Homo sapiens: one gene and its partners. The protein of the gene in region 1 purifies or fractionates together with the protein of each later gene. This does not show direct contact. Each region holds a gene or a part of one and is shown in the gene's direction. Other genes may lie near its edges. The genes, in order: BMX, CC2D1B, C11orf58, PPM1G, ERC1, CHD1 and ABCE1.

Region 1 (3,500 bases):
AGGGAATATGAGTGATGGTGCCTCAAAGCAGTAACTTTTTGCTTAGAGCTTGAGAGTCAAAGTTAAGGACCCACATGTATACTTCGGCTCTAGCGAGTCTAAGGTGAGTAAAGCCTTCAGATTATCAATAAAGAAAGATTTTAACTATTGGGCATGTGAATTCAAATAACGATGCAATTTCACAAAGCAAAGAAGAACATAAGAAAGTTTGTTTCTCTGGCCTACTGCTCAACATTGCTACTTTTCATGATCAGACCTGATATTAGACTGAGGGTTGAAGTAACTGTCTTAGTAGAATTAGAAAATTAATGCATTTATTTTTCAGAAATACCTTAAGTTTTAATGTTTTACATGATTTTGGGATAAAAAGGAAGAGTCTTTTTACTTTGTAAATGTACTCATTTTTTCAGTTCTTTTAAATCTCTTTTGATAGCATCTGTTAGTGCACCCTCATACATTTTCCTCATTTTATCTTATCTTAGGCATTTACTTTGATTTTAAATTCTCATAGATATTGAAAATTATACCTGTGTAATTTATGTTAAAGATCTGGCCATGATCAGGGGCTGCAGGTGTTATTTACAATAATGTCAGTGTCTCATAGTGGTTTGGGTAATTTGGTCAAATTACAGGCCGTTACTTCATAAATTGTGAGCTGTCTGGAGTTAAATTTTCTGAAGTTTTATTATATCCAATTCAATTCAACCAACACATATAGAATGTTTAAAAAGTAAGGAGCATTTTGATAAGGTGGTCTGGAGAATGGGGCAAAGATGATGAATTTATTATCCACAGTGGGAGGAGTCAAAAGTATAAAGTGCTTTTTAAAAATCAACATATTTATAAAACCCAAAGCAAAGGCAGCAGAAAAACTGTAGCTATTGTGTAATTTATTCTATAATCCTACATCAGTCTCATTTATTAAAATCAGCATTTATATTATCCCTTAATAGGAAATCGTTGAGGAAAAGATATGAAGGTTAAAGAGAACTTACCTAGATGCTGCAAATACTCATTTTAATTATTTATTTTGTTTAGGATGATAATATGGATACAAAATCTATTCTAGAAGAACTTCTTCTCAAAAGATCACAGCAAAAGAAGAAAATGTCACCAAATAATTACAAAGAACGGCTTTTTGTTTTGACCAAAACAAACCTTTCCTACTATGAATATGACAAAATGGTGAGACATCATGTGTTCCATTATTTTTATACTATTTATTATTTTTCCTAAGTCTCCACAAAGTACTTGATCATAATGAAAGAATATCAGGTTTCTTAACTTACACTGTGAAGATCCTCTTCTATCCACTTATCACATGACCTTTTCTTAATGAAAGTATAATGAATTCAAGATAAAGGATTTTAAAACATTAGTTAACTTTACTAAGGCAAATTATAACTTTAGAACAGTGGTTCTCAACTGAGGGCATTTTTGCTCCCCAGGTGACATTGGGAAAAGACTGGAGATATTTTGGGTTGTTCCAACTGGGGGATAGGAACAGTAAGTGTTAAAGACATCTAGTGAGTAGAGGCCAAGAATGCAGCTAACCATCCTGCAGTGCACAGGACAGTCCTCACAACAAAGAATTACCCAGCCTTAAATGGCAATAGTGCCTTAAAACAATGCTAGAAATAAGACTATTCCTGTACAGTTGAGAATTCTACTATAGTAAAAACACTGAAATACTGTCATAAGACTGAGCCAAAATGAAGATGCTTTGCAGAAGTTAAATCTTGATTTTCCTGAGTATATTAACCACATGGTAGGTGATTTGAAACACATTTCAAGATAATCAAACAAGATTATTAACCACTGGAATATATGTGTTTGTGTCCAGACTCAAGGAATAGATTATGTTGTCATTGGATTTTGACTATTACGGGGTAATAGGAAGTGACTCTCCATTGCCCACCCCCCACCCCAATCTCCCTCTCAGGCATAACTTGGGCTTTATGCCTTTCCTTGTGCACCATGATGTATTGCAGGAAGTATCTTACATTTTGTTTTTTAATTCAGAAAAGGGGCAGCAGAAAAGGATCCATTGAAATTAAGAAAATCAGATGTGTGGAGAAAGTAAATCTCGAGGAGCAGACGCCTGTAGAGAGACAGTACCCATTTCAGGTAAAGGGAAGAACGACATTGCATTGGGTGGATAGTTCTTCCTTCAATTTTTCTATCGTGAACTCAATATATCTAGGAAAAATAATGATATTTCAAAATAATCTAAACAAGGCTTGGAATATTCCCACATGGGAGTTGGGCATTTTGCTAAAATTCTGTCCACCAATCTGCCTTCCCTGGAGGGAAGGGAAGGGAAGCAAGACAGGAGCGTAAGTCGCAGTGACCTGACCTGCCTCAGGTCTGATCATCTCTTTTAACAAACATTGCTGAGTATCTCCGATGTGGTACACAGTAGTAGGCATACTATGGGGAACAAAACACTGCCCCTACCCCAAGGCATTTACAGGGAAGTGGCAAAATAGACTAATACACAGACCATTACAAAGCAGTGAGGGTGAGAGTTAAGGTGGAGGTCAGCAGAATGCATCCATGGAGTCCCAGGATGTGGAAGTTTCATTCCTCACTCCAAGAGGCTAGAGAGATATTCTATTGGAGGTGACACTCAAGTTGAGAAGGACAAGTAAAATTTAACCCAGCAAATATGAGAAGGACAGTGGTACAAAGGAAGCAGCAGGTGTCAAGGCACTGATGAGTGAAACAGTATGACACATTTAGAGAGCACTAAGTAGTCCCTATGAATAAAGAAGCCCATGTGACAGTGAAAGAGATAGCCTGGAGAGGTGACCATGCTAAGGAGTTTTCATTTTACCCTGAAGTATTTTAAACAATGGTATGGTATGTAGTGTATGCTGGTAGTACCTTTTGGAAGTGGCCTAATCTAAGTCATGCCCTACTTTTCTTATAGCATAAAATCTTACATTTCTGATCCAAAGGTAGATGGATTGTCTTTCAGATGGCCTGACTACCCAGTGCTAGTATTAGGAACCTGTGGCCAAAAATGAAATACAATAATCCAGTTGATTAACAACCCATACTTCCCATTTGGAAAAAATATTACCAGGCCAGGCACAGTGGTTCATGACTGTAATCCCAGCACTTTGGGAGGCCAAGGAGGGAGGATCACTTAAGGCTGGGAGTTCAAGACTAGCCTGGGCAACATAGCGAGACCTCATCTCTACATAAACATTGTTTTCATTAAAAAAATTACCCAATTGGGGGAAACCAGGGGAGGGCATGCTCATGGAAGATGCTGCAAACTCACCTCATAGAGGCATAGTGCTCAAAAGATCACAGGCTTTGGAGCCCCCAGAGAGTTCCTAGTTCCACCACTTATACTTGTGCAACTGTAAACACATACTCAACTTCTATTTCTCACAGAGTTGAAATAAGATTAAAATACTGAAGTAGCTAGGAAAGAGCCCAGCAACTAGTAAGTGTTTAACAAATGCTGTGTATATTTACCAACAAGAGTT
Region 2 (3,500 bases), on another chromosome or scaffold:
GGTATGGCATCTGGCTCAGGGCACCCACCCTCATTTTATAGATAGGGGAAACAGGCTCAGAAAGGGAGCTAGACTGAGATTGAGTGAGATTGGCCTAAGTGGGGGTTGTTTCAGCCCAGGCTCTTGGGGTCCCCTGTCTTTCACCCACACCTGCTTTTCCAACTTCTGCAGAGATTCGGTGCTGTCCTGGAGGCCCTGGAGAAGGGGCAGCCCGTGGATCTGAGTGCCATGCCCCCGGCACCTGAGGGTCAGTATGTATCTTCTCAGGCTGCGGTGGGGTTGGGGAGGAGTAGCAGGCCTGGGGCTGGCCAGGCCCTCCCACCTACACCTCTACTCTGGGTCCCCCAGATCTGAAGCCCCAGCAGGCTTCTCAGGCTCCCACAGCACCCTCAGTCATTCCCCCAGCCGTGGAGCGAGTGCAGCCAGTGATGGCCCCTGACGTCCCAGCAACCCCAGGTAGGGCAGGATGGTGGGACTGTGGCGTGGGGACCTGCAGGCATTGGAGGGCAGGCTGACCTGATGCCCACTTCTTCCTTCTTTCCTTCAAGTGGCCCCTACAGAGTCACAGACAGTGCTGGATGCCCTGCAGCAGAGGCTGAACAAGTACCGCGAGGCGGGCATCCAGGCCCGGAGTGGTGGGGACGAGCGCAAGGCTCGGATGCATGAGCGCATTGCCAAGGTGGGCCCGCGGCTATGCAGCCCCTGCCTGTGCTGGCCTCTTCCCTGGCTGGGTGCTCTGTCTCCCTGGTCCTCCGGCTAGTCCTTGTCTTTTCTGAACCATCATCTGTTTGTCTCTCTGGGGCTCTTGCTGCCTTAGGGATCTTTTTTTCTCCCAGGGCTGCTGTCTTCCCACCAGTCTCCCTCTCCTTGCCCCACTGTGTGTCATGTTGGGCAGGGGGCCTGTGGGCTGCTGCCGACCACAGGCCCCTCCCTTCCTTCCCTTGCAGCAATATCAAGATGCTATTCGAGCACACCGAGCAGGACGGAAAGTCAACTTTGCTGAATTGCCTGTTCCTCCAGGTAAGTGGGGCATGGCCTAGGGGCTCTGTGAGGAGGTGGTCCCTGGGCAAGAAGGGAATGGGGGACAGCCAGTGATTCCCACTTCTCATGCGTCTGCCTCCCCTCTGTGGAGCCATCCATCCCAGCCATGCCCCAGCAGAGCCATGCCCCAGACAGGGCCCCGGGTAGCTTTGTGCTTCTCTGAGGCTGCTCCCTGCCCCTCCCATGCTGTCTCTCTCCCACAGGATTTCCCCCCATCCCTGGCCTGGAGTCCACTATGGGTGTTGAGGAGGACGCAGTGGCAGCGACATTGGCAGCTGCAGAGAAACTGGCCTCTGCAGAGGATTCAGCCCCGGCTGATAAAGACGAGGACGAGGTTTGGTTGAGGGCTCAACTCCAGGGCTGGTGGGGAGAATAGCAGGTGAGGGGTAAACCCAGACCCTGTTGTCCATACTAACAAGCCCAATAAGGTACATATTCTTTCCTCCACTGTACAGAGAAAAAACTTGCCCAAGGACACCCAGCTAGGAAATAGCAGAACTAGGATTCAAACCAAGGTCTTTCTGAACCCAGAGCCCCGGCTCCATCCCCATTACCCTGCAGTCTCTCTCCTGCTGGGGAGGTTAGATGTGAGAGCTTCTGAGGCTGCTTCTAGCTCTCAGATCTTTTAGGACCCAGGAAGAGAAGCCACCCATCTCAGGTCACACAGCGATGTAGTACAGTGTTAGGAAGACAGCCCAAGTCTGGGAGCCGCCATGACTATGCTAGGGAACACATCCCCTCCTAACAGCCTCCTGGGCACCTGCAGGGTGAGCCCCCAGCACAGGCCCCAGTGGCCAAGAAACCTGCACGGCCCACAGTCCCTTCATCCCAGCGCCTGCCTGAGCCCAGGGCCTCAAGTTCTAAGGAGTCACCGAGTCCATCTGGTGAGTTGGGGACAAGCAGGGTGAAGAACTGAGGGCCTAGAGAGGGCAGGTGTGGCCCTAACCAGTGGCCTTCTCCCTTCAGTGCGGGAGCAGCTGGCACTGCTGGAGGCACGGAAACTGCAGTATCAGCGGGCAGCCCTGCAGGCCAAGCGCAGCCAGGACCTGGAGCAGGCCAAAGCCTATCTGCGGGTAGCCAAATGGCTTGAGGCTCAGATCATCCAGGCCCGATCTGGCAGACCTGTTGATCTGTCCAAGGTGAGTCCCACCTGGTTAACCACCAGGACTTCTCAGGCGGAGGTGGCGGCTGGCAGGCTTGACAGGCTGTGAACAAGGGCAGCTTCTGGGATGAGGCAGGGTTTGGACAGAGCATGATGACAGCTGGGAAAGAGCCTTTTGCTCATACTCCTCTACCTCACGGCCCCAAAGGAAACCAGGAGAAGGGAAGGTGGGCTGCCTGTGGTCAGAGATGACAAGGCTGGGCCAGGCCATGGGAGGCAAGAGTGTTATTTTGGGATAGAATGGGAGGCGATGAGTTGTCATCACTGGACTTTAGTAGAAGCTGAAGAATTACTTAGTTTGGGCTCCTGCCTTTGTTGGACTTGGTAGAGGAGTAATCTGACTCTTGGGGCCCGAGGGGCCTTGTGACCTGGGTAGGTGCCTTCGCCCTTGACGGATGAGGAGGGTGACTTCATCCTCATCCACCATGAGGACCTGCGACTCTCCCAGAAGGCGGAGGAGGTGTATGCCCAGCTGCAAAAAATGCTTCTGGAGCAACAAGAGGTCAGCAGGCCCCTCGTCTGTTCCTCCCCTCTGTGCCCACAGCCTCCCCGTGGAGGAAGACCTGGAGCTCAGACCACACAGCCCTGGACTCAAAATTCTCAGCTCTTCCACTTACTCACTGTGTGACTTGGGCAAGGCACTTTCTTCTCTGAACTACATTTTCCTCATCTATGAGATGGGGTGATAATACCCCTTTCAGGGTGGTACAAACAACAGAGAAGAGGGAAAGAACATTGTGATGTGCGTGTATGTTTATGTATTTATCTATCTGAACTGCCACCTGTTCTGGAAAGGCTGCCTTCTGAGGGGATGTTTGAGTTAGGTTTTGATGGAAGGAGTTGCTAATTTGGGGAATGGCTCTCCTCAGAAGAGAAAATGACAAAAGTGTAGGCAGAGAAACGTGGTGGGACTTGGGAGTAGTGCCCTTGGGGCTGTGTTGTGGGAGGAGAGAGGTGAGGCTACAGAGGAAAGTTGAAGCTTTGAGAAGTCTAGCCTTGAATGCCAACCAAGGCAGGTCCTGCTCTGGGCTCGGGAGTCACTCTGGGCCTCTATTTTCAGAAGTGCCTGCTGTTCTCCAAGCAGTTCATGCACCAGGGCAACGTGGCTGAGACCACCCGGTAAGTGCAAGGGCTGGGGCTGGGCTCATAGGGTGGGGAGCAGAAAATCCACCATCATGCTGACATACCCATCCCTGTCAGATTTGAGAAGCTTGCTCAGGACCGCAAGAAACAGCTGGAGATCCTGCAGCTGGCCCAGGCTCAGGGCCTCGACCCTCCCACCCACCACTTTGAGTTG
Region 3 (4,079 bases), on another chromosome or scaffold:
GGCTAATTTTTGTATTTTTAGTAGAGACGTGGTTTCACCATGTTGATCAGGCTGGTCTCGAACTCCTGACCTCGTGATCCACCCGCCTCAGCCTCCCAAAATGCTGGGGATTACAGGCCTGAGCCATGGCGCCAGGCCTAATTTTTGCTTAAAAAAAAAAAAAATCACATTTGTATTCAAGGTGAGAAAGCTTCAGAATTATTAAGGACAAGGATTCTGACAGAAAGTTAAGTTCAGACCTGGTTACAAATTCAGACACCTTAATAAAGTAGGAGATAGTCTTCAGTATCTGAACAATAAATAGCTTTAAATGCAGGGCTTTTTGAGTAGAGGAGTGATCACTTGAATCTGGAGAGAGGGCGAGAAATGGGGAGGGATTGCTAACGGGCATTGGGGTTCCTTTTGGAGTGGTGAAACTTCTTGGAATCAGAGGTGACAGCTGCACACGATTGTGAATGTACTAAGTGACAGTGGATTGTACACTTTTTAAAAAATGGTTAATTTTATATGTGAATTTAACCTCAATAATTACTTTTTTTAAAAAAGAAAAAAAATAGAGGCTTTTGTGGCAGGGATGGACTTTGCTTGGTGAAGGCCCCTACTGTAACGGTGCCCAGACATCCACAGCGAGGTCAGTGAGGAGCACTCCCACCTCACACAAAGCCATATGAAAACTTAACAGATTTCCCTCAGCTAAATCCCCGTTTTCAACAACCGCCAATTAGCCAACATTTAACAACATACTGAACTCATTTCTGTATGGGAAAACAGCGAAATATTCATGAAAACATTTAGAAAGCAGCATCACCGACCACCTAGAAATCCCCTGCGCGCAATAGAGAACACCAGGGTGGAAATGGTAGAAGCCATTTTTGGTTAAGGTTTTTGTCCTGGGTGGAGGGTATTCGTGAGGATTCAGTCAGCCTCAAACATTACATTTAAACATAGGTGCCTAGCTACGATGATACATTTGCCAGTAGGGCAGCGTTGCACGGTGAAAGGCAAAAACCCCTCTAAGCCTCCTCCTGTGGCGACAAAGCTCTCGGCCAACGCTCACCGCCATACACATCCGCGGGAACGCTTCCTCCACCAGCCGAAGGCGGGGCCTCTGAGGGCACTCCCGCCACACAGCGCGAATTGAGCCTCGGGGCTTCCTGGGAATTGTAGTTTTAGTCACGGACACATCTTTTTTATTCGGGCCAGTATGCAATGAATCAGAAAACTACAACTCCCAAAGTGCCCCGGGGCGGCGAGGGGCCGCAACGGTGACGACTGTGGCAGAGAAGGCCCGGAGGGGCTCTGCGTTCTGTAGTGGCGCTGCTTGGGCCCTTGGCGGATTGTAAGCTGCTGGTTTTGCGGCTGGGAAGAGCGGCGAGAGGGTTCGGCATTTTTCGTCGGGATCCCCGCAAGGATGAGTGCTGCCAGAGAGTCTCACCCGCATGGGGTGAAGCGTTCAGCCTCCCCAGACGACGATGTAAATAATAATGGCGGAGTGGCTGAGGGTTGAGGCCTACTAAAGCCTGGAGTAGGCCGGGAAGGGTGGTTGGAGGAGGACGCGCCTGAGGTGGCCTGCAGCGGGAGAGCCCAGGGAAGAAACCAGAAGAATGAGTGGGAAATGCCTCCCTTAATCTTTATGAGGGTCAGAAGGTTTGAAGAGGCCCACACGCTGAGAGCCGGAGACCTGCGTAGGAAGGGGGATTGAGGAAGGAAATTCTGAGAGGGTCGAGGAGTGAAAGAGCTTAGTCAAGGGATTTCGTACGTGCGTTTTGGGGGGCCGATGAGAGTGCTTTCTCGGGCCTTTGTACTCAGTATAGAGACGGCAAGACTCTCCCTGTTTTGGGTTCTAAATGTTCCCGTGACAATGTCGAAATGTTCGTGCACGTTTGTACAGATTTTTCCTGCCTGGATGATTTTTACAATGTGCTGTTGAGAGTTAACTTTAGCTGCACTAGTAAGGGTAAACCGAGAACAGTATTGAGCCGAAAATTGTGCCACGGGTGTAATTTGGTACTGGCTCTGGTGGTGAGGTCTAAGACGTTGAGACCTAGAAGCCCATTTTGATGTCGGATATTAATACCTCGTTCTTCTTACCTCGTCTCCCCATCAAATGCCGTTCCCTTCCTCAGCCCTCACCTCATAGGTTTTAATAGCAAACGGTTTATCCCTTAAAGTAACCCGTTAAATATTTACTGCACTGCCGGGTGTTGGGAATTCGGAGAGAAATATGATGCTTATTTTAGGCCTTTTTGTATATTTGTCCTAGCTCCTAGCCCAGTGTCATGGAAACGGTAGGTAACCAGTAAACGTAAAACTAGGTCCTTCATACAATGGATAAGTGTCTTGGCAACGTTGATGGGGAAAATTGTTGGAGAGAGCGCGGAGAGGTCATCTTTAAGGAAGATGAAGGGATATCTAGGTTTTTTTTCGGTTTTGTTTAAAGTACTGTCAATTTCTGAATACATAGAGCTTTAAATTTTTCGATAGTGCATTTCAACGCTCTTCATAAAATTTTAAAAGCCCACTGAATACTACTTTGTAGCAAATGAGATAATGTTAAGACCTACCCCTCTGATGGGAGGTGGGGCGAGGACCGGAATATTAAGGATCTTTAAAGGAATCGACTTCAGCTCTGCAGAAAGATTAGCAATCAGTAAAGATTTGGGGATGAATGGGCACCTAGAGAAGTTTATTCTTGCTCTCTGTTATTTCTGCTACTGGATTTTAGATCTTGTTAATATGGTAATTCAGGTTTTGTCAGGAATTGATCCACACTTTTGAGTAACCTGGCTGCCACTTAAAAAGCTGTTACATTGTTTTCCTCCTGATCTTTAAATGTGACTTGATTGCTAGGATATCAGACACCTGTTTGGAAATATCTTTTAGCGTGACAGAAAACTCCAGGTGATATGAAATTTAACAAAGTTAAAGGGATTAAGTCATTAAGTTTACAGCTTCGGAAGAGGTCGGTTTAAACTAGACGACCTTGAAGACCTTTCCCAATCATATAAGCGTATCTTTAAGTACCTGGGTTTTGTTTTTGTTTTGAGACAGGTGAGACAGGGTCTCTGTCGCCCAGGCTGGAGTGCAGTGGCACGATCGATCAGTGCTCCCTGCAGCCTCCACCTCCCTGGCTCAGGTGATCCTCCTGCTTCAACCCCCTCTTCCCCCACCACCACTACAGTAGCTCGGACTACAGGTGTGCACCATTACACCCGACTAATTTTTTGTATTTTTAGTAGAGACCAGATTTTGCCACATTGCCCAGGCTGGTCTCCAACTACTAGACCCAAGCGATCTGCCCACCTCGGCCTCCCAAAGTGCTGGAATTACAGGTGTGAGCCACCTCGCCCAGCCAGTACTTAAAAAAAAAATTTTTTTAACCATAAGTAATGCATTCATTAAAATACCTCCAAGCTGTTGCAGAAAAAAAAAAAAAAACTAGCAGGCCGGGCGCGGTGGCTCACTCCTGTAATCCCAACACTTTGGGAGGCCAAGGCAGGCGGATCACGAGGTCAGGAGATCCAAACCATCCTGGCTAACACAGTGAAACCCCGCCTCTACTAAAAAAATACAAAAAAATTAACCGGGCGTGGTAGCGGGCGCCTGTAGTCCCAGCTACTAGGGAGGCTGAGGCAGGAGAATGGCGTGAACCCGGGAGGCGGAGCTTGCAGTGAGCCAAGATGGCGCCACTGCACTCCAGCCTGGGCGACAGAGCGAGACTCTGTTTAAAAAAAAAAAAAAAAAAATCTAGTTATAATATATAGTTGGGAAACAGTTTCTAATGAGCATCCACGGTATGTGAGAGATCATTGAAGTTTTCTTATGCCCATTGACCTCACATCTAATTGAGGTAACAAAACATTTTTTTACTATTAAAAGTAGATACTAAATCACAATACAACTCTAGAAAAACGCTAACAATGTAGGAGTAAATTCTAAGAGTCACCAGGTTATGTATTGAGGAGGTAAATTGATTGCAGTTCTGTAGTAAAGGGTATTAAGGATGAAAACAACTTAAAAGTCGTTTCATTGGCTTGGAGTGGAGAAATGAAAGCTATCTTATAGGAAGTGGGAAGAGT
Region 4 (3,500 bases), on another chromosome or scaffold:
GAGATCTTACTAGACTATTCCTTACATCCTAATCTTCCTCCTGAGAGATAACTGCTTAGGGTATTAAAATCTTGCTAATGTGCTGTTTCTGAAGTTGCCCTTGTTTGAATAAATATGCCTAATCAATAGTTAAATATGCCTAATCAAATCCTCTTGAAGAGTATTGTTTGGGATCCTATTCTGCTTCATTGATAGTGTTCCTTCTGGCTTTTTTTCTCTTCAAAGTGTAGCATAGTTTCTTTGCTATTGCAAGAAAATAACTATGAGTTCTAGCCTCTTCCCTGAATCTTATCTTTCCAGAAAATATAAAGTACTCCCATTCCTCTGAAGCTTTAGGGCTTAATCCAAAAATTAATAAAGTTTATTTACCCTATTTGCTTGGTCCTAATGCTTCATTTGAGGTAAGGTTATCATACCACTAAAGGTTGTTGACATGCTGACTGATGGATAGATTTAGCCGTAGAGAGGACTCTTGAGACAAAAATGGCAATCATCAATAGCTGGCATTTTTACTTTCTGCCTGTTTCAAGCTTCTCTTCCTGTGTGACCAGGGTGTTGTTGTTGTTTGTTTTGTTTTGTTTTGTTTTTGAGACGGAGTTTCTATCTTGTTGCCCAGGCTGGAGTACAATGGCATGATCTCGGCTCACTGCAACCTCCGCCTCCCGGGTTCAAGCGATTCTCCTGCCTCAGCCTCCTGAGTAGCTGGGATTACAGGCATGTGCCACCACGCCTGGCTAATTTTGTATTTTTAGTAGAGATGGGGGTCTCTCCATGTTGGTCAGGCTGGTCTCGAACTTCTGACCTCAGGTGATCGGCCCGCCTCTGCCTCCCAAAATGCTGTGAGCCACCATGCCCAGCAACCAGGGTGTTTTGAGAAAAGGTAATCAAAATACCACAGGCCAGTCGTGGTGGCTTAACGCCTGTAATCCCAGCAGTTTGGGAGGCCGAGGGGGGCAGATCACCTGAGGTCAGTTCGAGACCAGCCTAGTCAACATGGTGAAACCCCGTCTCTACTGAAAATACAAAAATTAGCCAGAGGCCAGAGAATTGCTTGAATAGGAAGGCCAGTGAGCCGAGATCTCACCGCTGCACTCTAGCCAGGGTGACAGACTCCGTCTCAAAAAAACAAACAAAAAAACCACCACAGTTGATGTTCTCCTCCTTCCTCCTTTCTCCATGAAAAAAGTGGATGAGGTATGTACTTTGGGATTAAGAGGTAGGCACTGGGCACGGTGGCTCATGCCTGTAATCCCAGCACTTTGGGAGGCCGAGGTGGGCGGATCACGAGATCAAGAGACCGAGATCATTCTGGCCAATATGGTGAAACCCTGTCTCTTCTAAAATACAAGAATTAGCTGGGCATGGTGGCGCACGCCTGTAGTCCCAGCTACTCCGGAGGCTGAGGCAGGAGAATCGCTTGAACCTGGGAGGCGGAGGTTGCAGTGAGCCGAGATCGCACCACTGCACTCCAGCCTGGGCGACAGGGTGAGACTCCATCTTAAAAAAAAAAAAAAAAAAATGAGGTAGGTTGTGGAGGGGTGCCTGAAAAATTATAAGGTAAGGCCCTTGAGTTTTTGTTGGCTAAATAAGAAGTCAAATCTGAAAATAGATTCAGTTGATGTAGTCTTTTTTTTTTTTTTTTTTCTCCGAGACGGAGTCTTGCACTGTTGCCCAGGCTGGAGTATAATGGCATGATCTTGGCTCACTGCAACCTCTGCCTCCTGAGTTCAAGCGATTCTCCTGCCTCAGCTTCCCGAGTAGCTGGGATTACAGGCGCCTGCCACCATGCCCGGCTAATTTTTTGTATTTTCAATAGAGACAGGGTTTCACTATGTTGGCCGGGTTGGTCTCCAACTCCTGACCTCTTAATCCGCCCGCCTCGGCCTCCCAAAGTGCTGGCATTACAGGCGTGAGCCACCATGCCTGGCCCATCAGTTGATGTAGTCTTAAGGGGACAAGAGTACATTTAATATTTGGTTGTGAGGTTCTCTGGAAGTGACAAAACTGCTTTCTATGGAGAGTTAGGAATTTTTTTTTTTTTTGAAACGGAGTCTCGCATTGTCACCCGGGCTGGAGTGTAGTGGCTTGATCTCGGCTCACTGAAACTTCCGCCTCTTGGGTTCAAGTGATTCTCCTGCCTCAGCCTTCCAAATAGCTGGGATTACAGGAGTCTGCCACCAGGCCAGCTAATTTTTTTTTGTATTTTTAGTGGAGACAGGATTTCACTATGTTGGCCAGGCTGGTCTCAAGACTCCTGACGTTGTGATCCACCTGCCTCGGCCTCCCAAAGTGCTGGGATTACAGATGTGAGCTACCGTGCCCGGCCAGGAATTTTTTGTGCTATAAATCATATTTTCCTTTTATTAAAGGCAGTGTCAATATCTATAGTATAATTTTGAGGAGGCTGGCTATTTATTGCTGTGTAGAAGCTGGCTTATTAGTGGTCAAGGGGTCATCTAGAATTGACTATAAAGATAGTATTGAGCAGAAAATTCTTAAAATACCTGCATATTTGTTTCAGTCATTAAATTAATGGAAAAAATATAAAAAGAAATATCACAAGTATGCTATGGGGTTCTACCTTAGGGCATTGAAGGTTGAAAAACATTTATTTTCTTATCTTCAGATTAGCATCTCATATCAATAGCCAATAGCTTAAAGCGCTTTTTACTTACTAAACCAGGTCAGAATTTCTCTCTCTCTCTCTTTTTTTTTTTTAGACAGAGTCTCTGTCACCCAGTCTAGAGTGCAGTGGTGTGATCTCGGCTCACTGGCCTTTCTGTTTAAGTGATTCTCCGGCCTCAGCCTCCTGAGTAGCTGGGATTACAGGCATGTGCCACGACACTTGGCTTATTTTTTGTATTTTTAGTAGAGATGGGGTTTCTCTGTGTTGGTCAGGCAGGTCTTGAACTCCTGACCTCAGGTGATCTGCCCGCCTCCGCCTCCCAAAGTGCTGGGATTACAGACGTGAGCTACTGCGCCTGGCCAGAATTTCTTTGTCTAGAATGTGGTTAGCAACTTTTATAAAAACGCATTATTTGCATTTGATTAGCATGCAGTACCCATTCACAGTTCAAAGCTAGTATAGAATTATATCACATGTATGCCCATGAGCATGGAGAAACTATTTTCTTTTTATTTTTTTAAGTTGGAGTTTTGCTCTTGTTGCCCAGGCTGGAGTGCAATGGTGCCATCTCGGCTCACTGCAGCTTCTGCCTCCTGGGTTCTAGCAATTTGCCTACCCCAGCCTCCCAAGTAGCTGGGATTACAGGCACTCGCCACCATGCCCAGCTAACTTTTTTGTATTTTTAGTAGAGAAGGGGTTTTCCCATGCTGGCGAGTCTGGTCTTGAACTTCTGGCCTCAAGTGATCTGCCCGCCTCAGCCTCCCAAAGTGCTGGAATTACAGGCATGAGCCACTGTGCCCGGCCTTTTTATTTTTTAAATTATTTATGTATTTATTTTGAGACAGGATCTCACTCTTGCCCATGCTTGAGTGGT
Region 5 (3,500 bases), on another chromosome or scaffold:
CCTCACTGTATTAGTCTGTTCTCATGTTGCTAATACAGACATACCCGAGACTAGGTAATTTAAAAAGGAAAGTTTTTTTTTTTTTTTTTTTTTGAGACGGAGTCTCGCTCTTGTCACCCAGGCTGGAGTGCAGTGGCGCGATCTCGGCTCACTGCAATGTCTGCCGCCTGGGTTCAAGCTTCTTATGCCTCAGCCTCCTGAGTGGCTGGGATTACAGGCACCTGCCACCATGCTTGGTTAATTTTTGTACTTTTAGTGAGATTGGGTTTTGCCGTGTTGGTCAGGCTGGTCTCGAACTCTTGATGTCAGGTGATCCACCCGCCTTGGTCTCCCAAATTGCTGGAATTACAGATGTAAGCCACTGCACCCTGCCAGGAAAGAGGTTTAATGGACTCTCAGTTCCACATGGCTGGGGAGACCTCACAATCATGGCAGAAGGCGAATGAGGAGCAAAATTATGTCTTACATGGCGACAGGCAAGAGAACTTGTGCAGGGGAACTCCAATTTATAAAACTATCAGATCCCATGAGACGCACTCACTACCACCAGAACAGTAGAGGGGAAACTGCGCCCATGATTCAGTTAAGTACACCTGGCCCCACCCTTGATACATGAAGATGATTGCAATTCAAGGTGAGATTTGAGTGGGGACACAGCCAAACCATATCACTCACTGTTTGGAAACGTTACTTTTAACATATATTAAATTCCCATATATAATTTAGACCCTGTTCTTGGGCTAGTACTATACAGTTTTCGTTATTATAGTTTTACAAGGCTACAATACTTTGTAAGAAACCTTGCAGGTCAGATGTGGTTTTGTTGTCAGGAATTTTTTCCAGTAATACTTAGTGGACATTATGTAGTATCCAGTAATCACACACATTGTTTTCTTAATGAAATATATGAAGTCACACTATGTGGGATACATATAAACAGTAAGTAAGCTCAGATCAGGTCAAGGTTTGCTGCTAGATGAGTTAAAAGGAAAATCTTATTTTCAGAGGTTTTTGGATTTTTGCAGTACAAATGAAGAATTATGGATTTGTAATTTATGTTGCTGTTGAGGGCTGTCTTCCTTCCTTGTTCATCTATTTTAAATTGTTTGGTTACTCTTGTATCTTTACTCTCCATTTGAATTTTAGAGTCAGCTTGTTGAGTTACTTGAAAAATCCTTCAACACCTGTGAAAGGAAGGGATCTATAGCTGGTTAGCAAAATCCTGTAGAGATTTTTCACTGGGATTGTGCTAAGTAGTTGGGGAAGAACTAAATCTTAGCAGTGTTTGTCTTCTCATCCATGAACACAGATAACTTTGTTTAGGTGTTCTTTCATGTCTTTCAGTAAAATGTTATAGTTTTTTTCCCCCAAAATTCTTGCACATTTCTGTTGATTTACATCAAAGTACTTTTATGGTTTTGTTGCTGTTGTGAATGGGATTTAAAATTTCCTTTAAATTAAAAACTGCATTTTCTAGTTGTTACTACTGATGTATACATTGATACTTATATATTGATATTGAGTTTGACCAGTTTGTTGAGTTCTGTTATTCTAATAACTTGTCAGTTGATTATCTTGGGTTTTCAGTTAGCAAGTCAGATATTCAGACATTGAGTTTAATCTTTTCCTTGTCAATCTTTATACTTCTTGTTTTTTTTTCTTTTTCTTTTTTGTAGACAGGGTCTTGCTATGTATCCCAGGTTGGTCTTGAACTCCTGGCCTCAAGCGATCTTCCTACCTTGGCCTCCCAGAGCGCTGGGATTATAGGCATGAGCCATTGCACTTGGCACTTTTTTTGTTTGTTTTCCAGTTGCATGGTATGTTTTCAGCGTTCAGTTTTGAGACATCTAAAATATCTCTAAAATATTGTTTACTATGAGTACATTATGCTGTAATCACATTCTGAATGCGTGAGTACATACATGGTAGAAGGGCTAGATCTTCTTTAAGTGGGGGTAATGGAAAGTCTCTGAGAAGGGAAATATTTATTATTGGAGGATTTAATGTGTGATCTTTTCATTACAGATATGGTGTAAGATACTTCTTCAAGATTGGACAGCTGGGGACCTTCTTCTGATTAACCTTAAACCAACTTGTAGCCATAGAGACACCTCACAAGGTTCCCATTTTTGTTGTTGTTGTTGTTGATTTTCTGCTCACACCTTTCCTGACCTTGCAACCATGTATGGAAGTGCCCGCTCTGTTGGGAAGGTGGAGCCGAGCAGCCAGAGCCCTGGGCGTTCACCCAGGCTTCCACGTTCCCCTCGCTTGGGTCACCGTCGAACCAACAGTACGGGAGGGAGTTCGGGAAGCAGTGTTGGAGGTGGCAGTGGGAAAACCCTTTCAATGGAAAATATACAATCTTTAAATGCTGCCTATGCCACCTCTGGCCCTATGTATCTAAGTGACCATGAAAATGTGGGTTCAGAAACACCTAAAAGCACCATGACACTTGGCCGTTCTGGGGGACGTCTGCCTTACGGTGTTCGGATGACTGCTATGGGTAGTAGCCCCAATATAGCTAGCAGTGGGGTTGCTAGTGACACCATAGCATTTGGAGAGCATCACCTCCCTCCTGTGAGTATGGCATCCACTGTACCTCACTCCCTTCGTCAGGCGAGAGATAACACAATCATGGATCTGCAGACACAGCTGAAGGAAGTATTAAGAGAAAATGATCTCTTGCGGAAGGATGTGGAAGTAAAGGAGAGCAAATTGAGTTCTTCAATGAATAGCATCAAGACCTTCTGGAGCCCAGAGCTGAAGAAGGAACGAGCCCTGAGAAAAGATGAAGCTTCCAAAATCACCATTTGGAAGGAACAGTACAGAGTTGTACAGGAGGAAAACCAGGTAAGTTCTACGTGTGTTTACCTTTATTGGCTGAATTCATGTATATAAATGAAATAGCCTTTTTTTCCCCTTTCCTAGATTTTTCCCTTCGTAGTATATGTATCTTCCTTTTTCCTATTGATTTTACTGTTTTGTGTCCTCCATTTCTCAGCCCTTTCCAAATTTGGTCCTGTACCCTGTTTTCTTCTAGCTGCCCATGTCTCCTTGCTCCCATTCTTGCTTGGTTCTTTTCTCTGGTTTCTCTTTCTCTTCGTGTCTTTCCTTTCAGCATATGTTATCTTTTTTTTTTTTTTCCAATTCTTCTGAGAGTATAATTTTGCCACACTCTCTAATATCTATTACCAAATGTATTTTAGAGTAGGTAACTTAAATGTAAGGTATACCATTAAGATTTGTCATAATGTCAAAAAGTCATTCTTAAAAACAAAACAAAATGACTATCACAGGATAAGTCAGTGTTGTCAGCTGAGAACAGAAATTACTTTTAAAAAGTTAATGTTGGCCGGGTGCAATGGCTCACACCTGTAATCCCAGCACTTGGGAGGCCGAGGTGGGCGGATCATTGAGGTCAGGAGTTCGAGACCAGCCTGGCGACGTGGTGAAACCCTGACTCTACTAAAAATACAAAAATTAGCCAGGTGTGATGGCGT
Region 6 (3,500 bases), on another chromosome or scaffold:
AAGAATATTTTCCAGAGTGTTTTTGTTTTATAAATATTTCATTTTTAGCATGAGTAAAAGCAACAGTATTTTTGATAGCGAATATAGTTTGGTTGATTTGATCATCTTTGTATTAGGGATAAAACTTGCCATATAAGTACAAATAAAAATACTTTATAAATTTTGTCTGCAGTGAAGATTGGCAAATGTCTGGGTCAGGATCTCCATCTCAGTCTGGTTCAGATTCAGAATCTGAAGAAGAGAGAGAGAAAAGCAGTTGTGATGAAACAGAATCTGATTATGAGCCAAAAAACAAAGTCAAAAGCAGAAAACCTCAAAATAGGTATGGTCTCAGTTTGGTGCTGAAAATTGATTGTGGAAAGTATTTGTTCTTTTTGTATATAGTTTCTCAAATCTTGTTTTTTTTTCTCTTTGCACTTTCCTAGATCTAAGTCAAAAAATGGAAAGAAGATTCTTGGACAAAAAAAGAGACAGATTGATTCATCTGAGGAGGATGATGATGAAGAAGATTATGATAATGATAAAAGAAGTTCTCGTCGCCAAGCAACTGTTAATGTTAGCTATAAGGAGGATGAAGAAATGAAAACAGATTCTGATGACCTACTGGAAGTCTGTGGAGAGGATGTTCCTCAACCTGAGGAAGAGGAATTTGAAACCATAGAAAGATTTATGGATTGTCGGATTGGGAGAAAAGGAGGTAGTTTTTAAAAAACCATTTATTGTTTGGTTATTTAAATAATATTTACAGGAGTAGAGGGCTGGGCACAGTGGGTCGCCCCTGTAATCCCAGTACTTTGGGGGGCCGAGGCCGATGGATCAGGAGTTCTAGACCTGAGGTCAGGAGTTCTAGACCAGCCTGGCCAACGTGGCAAAACCCCATCTCTACTAAAAATAGAAAAGATTAGCTAGGTGAGGTGGTGCGCACCTGTAGTCCCAGCTACTTGGGAAGCCGAGGCAAGGGAATTGCTTGAACCCACGAGGCTGAGGTTGCAGTGAGCTGAGATTGCACGACTGCACTCCAGCCTGGGTGACAGAGCGAAACTCCATCTCAAAAAAAAAAAAAAAAGGTAAAGTATTTAAGATTTTTCTACAGTGTTGAAAGCTAAGAGGGTGGATTTTTTGTTGTTGTTGTTTTACTTATGTTTTATAAAAGCTACTTTGCTTAGCCTGAGTACCTTCTTAATAACCACCTGACCACATTTCTTTTTTCTTTTTTTTTTTTTTTTGTGACAGAATCTCGTTCTGTTGTCCAGGCTGGAGTGCAGTGGCACGGTCTCAGCTCACTGCAAGCTCCGCCTCCCAGGTTCACGCCATTCTCCTGCCTCAGCCTCCCGAGTAGCTGGGACTACAGGTGCCTGCCAGGACACCTGGCTGATTTTTTGTATTTTTAGCAGAGATGGGGTTTCACCGTGTTAGCCAGGATGGTCTTGATCTCCTGACCTCGTGATCCGCCCGCCTCGGCCTCCCAAATTGCTGGGATTACAGGCGTGAGCCACCGTGCTGGGCCTCCAGCTGACCACGTTTCATATATTGTGGATAATTATAGAATAATGCTGTGGGATCTCAGGTGGATCTCTGTCTTTTTATTTTTTCTAATTCGAAAAAGGAGGGGATTATATTAGATAATTCTGAAATTCTCAGTTTTATTTATGAGCAATAGAATTTCCCATAAGTTTCTATACCCCCAATACTTTATTTAAAAGAGTATATATTTTTGTACTCATATTATTGAAATTTTGAGTTGAAATATAATCCTACAACAGAATTAATTACATGGAAGGATCTTGTGCTTTTGTTTTCAGCTACTGGTGCTACTACAACCATCTATGCAGTTGAAGCAGATGGTGACCCAAATGCAGGCTTTGAAAAAAACAAAGAACCAGGAGAGATTCAGTATTTAATTAAATGGAAAGGATGGTCCCATATCCACAACACTTGGGAGACAGAAGAAACCCTCAAGCAGCAGAATGTTAGAGGAATGAAAAAATTGGATAATTATAAGAAAAAAGATCAGGAAACAAAAAGATGGTAAGTATGCTGTATATCATATACTTCTTTTAATAGTTCAAAGATTACTAAACCTTTATGTTAATAAAGAATACATAGTAACATTAAATGATAGCCTAAAATAGCTATAGACTTTATAATACAGTTGGCTGTCTTTGTCCACAGCTTCTCTATCCTTGGTTTCAACCAACCATGGATTGAAAGTATTCGGAGGGAAAAAAAACAACAATAACACAAATTAAAAACAATACCATGTAACAACTATTTGCACTGCATTTACGTTGTAAATGTAAAATTGGGTATTATAAGAACATCTAGAGATGATTTAAAGTATGGGGGAGGATGTGTGTGGGTTATATTTTAGGTACCATGTCATTTCATATAAGGGACTTGAGCATCCTCAGATTCTGGTATCTGTAGAGGATCCTCAACCAATCCCCTGCAGGTAGTGAGGGATGATTTTATTCCATCTCAAGGTAAAACTCCTAGAGGTATACCTATCTAAACCTATCCTTGGTAACAGTCACATAGAGTGTGTCTCATACATTATAAATTACAAATTTTTAGTTAAAAATTAATGATGCTTTATTCCTGTTTGAGTTTCTTTATTACTCAAACTTGGCCCACACAGTGGCAAAATGGGAGATTTTGTGCTACAAATAGTGTTGGGGATGGGGGAGTGAAAGGTTATTTATGGGAGATTTTTAAGTCTATTCCTGGATTAATAATTTTTCAGGTTGAAAAATGCCTCTCCAGAAGATGTGGAATATTATAATTGCCAGCAAGAACTTACAGATGATCTACATAAACAGTATCAAATAGTGGAACGTATAATTGGTTAGTGATAAATGATTCTAGTTAAACTTTCTTTTTATGCTTGAAATAATCTGAAAAAAGTCATAAGTTTGCCACTTACATATCAAACACAGTAGCTTGCTCTTACTAAAACAGTATTGTAAACTAGATAGCTAAATTTTACTTGTGTAGCCTTTACTAAGAATTATGTATCTGATGATTAAATGTAAAAAAAAATAAATAAATAAGTAAATGCCTGATTCTCTCACAGCTCATTCCAATCAAAAGTCAGCAGCTGGTTATCCTGATTATTACTGCAAATGGCAGGGCCTTCCATACTCAGAGTGCAGCTGGGAAGATGGAGCTCTCATTTCCAAAAAGTTTCAAGCATGCATTGATGAGTATTTTAGCAGGAACCAATCAAAAACCACTCCTTTTAAAGATTGCAAAGTGAGTATTGTCTAACATTTTAAATTATTAAAAATATATTTATACATTATAAATATTTACAAGCCTAAATACAAGAGTTGGATCCTGATTTCAGATAGACTAAGGGAGAATATTTCTTGGTTAATAGGTCTTACAGGAAGTGAACTTCTGCAATTGCTGTGTGTTTTTTAGTTTTAGTTTTATAATTTTTTATTTCAAACTTTCTCTTAAAAAAATTGTAAATGATGTTTTCGTCAATGTATCTTCTT
Region 7 (3,500 bases), on another chromosome or scaffold:
CATGTGCTAGGAACAACAAAGAGCCAATGTAGCTGGAGCCATACAAGAGCTAGAGTAGTTGGAGATGAGATCAGAAAGTTAACAGAGGCTGATCAATGCCTCATTGATTATTTTCAGGACTTTGGCATTTACTCAGATTGAGAATGAAGCCATTGCAGGATTTTAAATAGAGGAGTGACATGATCTAGCTTACTCTTTAAAAGGCTTCCTATGGTTCCTGTGTTGAGAATGAACTGTTGAGGGTTAGAGTAGAAAGAGGTGAGGGTAAAAGCAAAGAGATCTGTTAGGAAGCTATTTGAGTGATGCTGGTAAGAGATGATAGTGATAGCTTACACCAAACTCATGAGATCAGATTCTGGATGTTTTATAGCTTCAGTGGGATTTGCTGTTATTAGGTGGAAAAGAAAATGACTTCAAGGATTTGGGCCTGAGCAAATGGAAGACTGGAGTTGCCATCTAACAAAATGGGCAAGACTGCTGAAATTTTGGTGAGGATATCAGGAGCTTAGTTGGGAGATTCCTCTTAAGCCTTCCAGAGATGTTAGGTGGGCAGGAAGGGTTCAAGAGAGGTATGCTGACTAAAGATAGAAATTTGGAAATTTGCAGTATATAAATGGAATTTAAACCTGTGAGACCAGAATAGAACAACTTGGGGAATGAGTATATGTGGAAAAAAATGACCAAGTCTTAGAGCACTCTGCATTTAGAAGCCTGGGAGATGAAGATGAGTGACCAGGAAAACAGTAGAAAAACCAGATTAGTGTTGTATCCTAAAACCAAGTTAAGAAAGGGTTTTTATCTAGTAGGAAAAGTGTTTATTTGTGTCAGATGCAATTGATTGGTCAGGTGAATTAAGGTCTGATAACCATTTGTTTTAGCCATGTGAAGAACAATGATGGCTCGAAAAGTTTTGATTAAATGATGGGCTCTAGAGCCTAGAATGGATTCCAGAGAGCATGTAGCAAGAAATTTGAGACATTGAGTATAAGCAACTCTTTGAAGTAGTCTTGAAGAAGGAAAAATAAAACAATGGGAGACGATGGGGTCAGATAATAGAATGCCTGAATGCTGATAAGAATGAGCCAGTGGAGAGAATAATTGATGAAGTTAAAGACAGAAGGGAGAATTGTTGGGACATTCTTATGGAATGTCTTCTAGTGTACAAATGGTCTTAGCCAGGGAAATACATACAGTGTCATTGCTGGTTGGCATAAGGGTCCATTTGAGATGATGAATTTAAAGGGAGACTAGTCAGCAGGTTTTGTGTTTTTTTTTCACCTACCATTTTCAGCTCTATGTGTGCAGGTGAAGAGTCGAATTTAACCAAGATTGTGATTTAGGGTATTTTAGCTGGGTGAGAAGGAAAATAAAAACACCAAGAGCTGAGGGACAGTGGAAATATGATAGAATCAAGAGATAATGAAAGGTTTGAAGAATGGAGGAATCAGAGTTGTTGGATTGTTGTGTAGTAGGGGGTGAACTAAAAAGATAAGAATGGTGGTTGGAGAATGGAGTATTTGAAGTTGAGGTTATAGAAGGATTGCAATTACTGGTAATGATAAGGTCTAGGATGTAACCAGAAAAAATGAATGGCTGTGGTAAGGTAGAAGACAAGCTGTTTGAGGAGAGGGGTTAAATGAGAGGACAGGAGGGTCATCTGTGAGCATATTGAAATCGAGAACTATGTCAGGAGTTGTAAAAGAGTGTGTGAAAGTTAACAGGGGCTGAAATCTTCAAAGAATGAAAGGGAGTGATCTGGTGGTCACTACTAACTAAAGCAGTTAGATAGTTGAGATGCAAAACTTTTTAGGGAGGAGGGAGAGATAATAGTCTAGGACAGCGTCGAGGAGCAAGATCTCTTATCCCCATCCAAGCCTAATGATATTGATGGGTGTGAAAAAGACTTGAGATGTCTACAAAGGGAAGCAGTCTATTAAAAAAAATAAAATAAAATCAAGATTGATTATCACAGTAAGAAAAAGACAACATGATCTCTTTCTAAATGGATAATCTTGGTTTCAGATTCATTCATTACATATTGGAATAAACTTGAGTATTAAGGCACCTTTTGGAATTTTTTACTTTAATCACCATTCTAAGGAAATTAATTTCTGAACCACTAAGCCCAATATTGTGAAAGATTTTTAAGTTAACTTTGATCTTAATGCTGTGTAGTTGATTAAATTGGAATATCAAGACTTATAAAAGCTTTAAAAGTGAGCATAGTATATACATATAGTTATTTGGTCTCCTTTTAATTTCATTGCTATTATGATTATTTGCCATTTCTGTCAGTGTCATTATAGTCAGATGTACACGACGTGAAGTAATGCTTAGTTTGGGGGAAGAGCTTGTGGGATTTCCCCCATCCTGCTTCCCCTTTTTCAGTTTTCCTGGCTATTAATAATTCTTTTTCCATTAGAGCTTTAGATTTGCTTTGTCTGGGTTGGTTGGGGTTTTTTTTTTTTTTTGAGACTGGGTCTGACTCTCATCCAGGCTGGAGTGCAGTAGTGTGATCTCAGCTCACTGTAACCTCCACCTCCTAGGCTCAGGTAATCCTCCCACCTCAGCCTCCGGAATAGCTGGGACCGCAGGCGCACACCACCACATGTCTGGGGTTCTTTTGTTTGTTTTTTCTCATGAGATTGAATTAAATATATAAATTCAGGAAGGGTTTAAATCTGTGATATTAACTATTCTTTATTATAAAAACTGAGATAGCATGTCATTTGTTCAGGTCATTTATATCATTTGGTGTTGTTTTAAAGTTTTCTTGTGTATATATCTTGTTGAGTATATTCCTAGATATTTTCTTTTTGTCGCTATTGTAAATGACATTTTTTTCTTTCCTTATATAAATCTTCTGATTAAAGTATATATGTAAAATTTGATTTTCCCAACCTTACTAGATTATAGATTATTTTACAATTTTTACATTTGTCAAAATTTATATTTTTTTTTTGCAGATAATCATTTCATCTCCATATAATGATCATTTATGTTTTCCTGTCTTTCATGTATGCAAATTAGTTCCCTTAACTAATGGCATTAAATTTGTTGATTTTTCTTTCATAGAAGAGCTGGATATTCTTTCGCCCAGTTATGGCAGACAAGTTAACGAGAATTGCTATTGTCAACCATGACAAATGTAAACCTAAGAAATGTCGACAGGAATGCAAAAAGAGTTGTCCTGTAGTTCGAATGGGTAAGCTGTTCTGTGGATCATTTAAGTATAAAAGAAAACCATGAAAGAAATCAACTGGTTTGATAATTCTTTACGGACATTAACATAAACTTTGTGTTCACCATTAGTTTCATAAAACTGTGAAGACAAGAAAAGTAGTTTGTTCTAAATTTCTTTTATTGCTTTGTGACTGAAGGATCATATTTTTTAAAGAAAGACCAAATTTTAGAATAATACATCAATATTTAAAAGTGTATTGGATGTGAACTCAAAGCAGAGTTCAGCTTACTGATCTTGAAATCTACAAAATCTTATA

Evidence for each region.
Region 2: the proteins of BMX (region 1) and CC2D1B purify together in Homo sapiens (affinity purification with mass spectrometry; 2 studies listed by BioGRID and IntAct, with this or other methods). This does not show direct contact.
Region 3: the proteins of BMX (region 1) and C11orf58 purify together in Homo sapiens (affinity purification with mass spectrometry; one large-scale study listed by BioGRID and IntAct). This does not show direct contact.
Region 4: the proteins of BMX (region 1) and PPM1G purify together in Homo sapiens (affinity purification with mass spectrometry; one large-scale study listed by BioGRID and IntAct). This does not show direct contact.
Region 5: the proteins of BMX (region 1) and ERC1 purify together in Homo sapiens (affinity purification with mass spectrometry; one large-scale study listed by BioGRID and IntAct). This does not show direct contact.
Region 6: the proteins of BMX (region 1) and CHD1 purify together in Homo sapiens (affinity purification with mass spectrometry; one large-scale study listed by BioGRID and IntAct). This does not show direct contact.
Region 7: the proteins of BMX (region 1) and ABCE1 purify together in Homo sapiens (affinity purification with mass spectrometry; one large-scale study listed by BioGRID and IntAct). This does not show direct contact.

Annotation. Positions count from the first base shown.
Region 1 is NC_000023.11:15,507,307-15,510,806, forward strand, and holds part of BMX (cytoplasmic tyrosine-protein kinase BMX), read left to right. Parts: intron 1-1; exon of another isoform or gene 2-103; intron 104-1,038; 5' UTR 1,039-1,047; coding exon 1,048-1,185; intron 1,186-2,022; coding exon 2,023-2,127; intron 2,128-3,500. UniProt on the Homo sapiens protein: Non-receptor tyrosine kinase that plays central but diverse modulatory roles in various signaling processes involved in the regulation of actin reorganization, cell migration, cell proliferation and survival, cell adhesion, and apoptosis.
Region 2 is NC_000001.11:52,356,206-52,359,705, reverse strand, and holds part of CC2D1B (coiled-coil and C2 domain-containing protein 1B), read left to right. Parts: coding exon 1-1; intron 2-171; coding exon 172-247; intron 248-348; coding exon 349-456; intron 457-548; coding exon 549-679; intron 680-947; coding exon 948-1,020; intron 1,021-1,244; coding exon 1,245-1,375; intron 1,376-1,789; coding exon of another isoform or gene 1,790-1,807; coding exon 1,808-1,925; intron 1,926-2,007; coding exon 2,008-2,180; intron 2,181-2,579; coding exon 2,580-2,705; intron 2,706-3,263; coding exon 3,264-3,322; intron 3,323-3,403; coding exon 3,404-3,500. UniProt on the Homo sapiens protein: Transcription factor that binds specifically to the DRE (dual repressor element) and represses HTR1A gene transcription in neuronal cells.
Region 3 is NC_000011.10:16,737,368-16,741,446, forward strand, and holds the start of C11orf58 (small acidic protein), read left to right. Parts: upstream 1-1,279; 5' UTR 1,280-1,411; coding exon 1,412-1,474; intron 1,475-2,188; exon of another isoform or gene 2,189-4,079.
Region 4 is NC_000002.12:27,403,092-27,406,591, reverse strand, and holds part of PPM1G (protein phosphatase 1G), read left to right. Parts: intron 1-3,500.
Region 5 is NC_000012.12:1,025,723-1,029,222, forward strand, and holds part of ERC1 (ELKS/Rab6-interacting/CAST family member 1), read left to right. Parts: intron 1-2,025; 5' UTR 2,026-2,181; coding exon 2,182-2,850; intron 2,851-3,500. UniProt on the Homo sapiens protein: Regulatory subunit of the IKK complex. Probably recruits IkappaBalpha/NFKBIA to the complex. May be involved in the organization of the cytomatrix at the nerve terminals active zone (CAZ) which regulates neurotransmitter release.
Region 6 is NC_000005.10:98,898,008-98,901,507, reverse strand, and holds part of CHD1 (chromodomain-helicase-DNA-binding protein 1), read left to right. Parts: intron 1-172; coding exon 173-322; intron 323-425; coding exon 426-697; intron 698-1,802; coding exon 1,803-2,028; intron 2,029-2,743; coding exon 2,744-2,844; intron 2,845-3,073; coding exon 3,074-3,252; intron 3,253-3,500. UniProt on the Homo sapiens protein: ATP-dependent chromatin-remodeling factor which functions as substrate recognition component of the transcription regulatory histone acetylation (HAT) complex SAGA. Regulates polymerase II transcription.
Region 7 is NC_000004.12:145,101,311-145,104,810, forward strand, and holds part of ABCE1 (ATP-binding cassette sub-family E member 1), read left to right. Parts: intron 1-3,075; 5' UTR 3,076-3,102; coding exon 3,103-3,205; intron 3,206-3,500. UniProt on the Homo sapiens protein: Nucleoside-triphosphatase (NTPase) involved in ribosome recycling by mediating ribosome disassembly. Able to hydrolyze ATP, GTP, UTP and CTP. Splits ribosomes into free 60S subunits and tRNA- and mRNA-bound 40S subunits.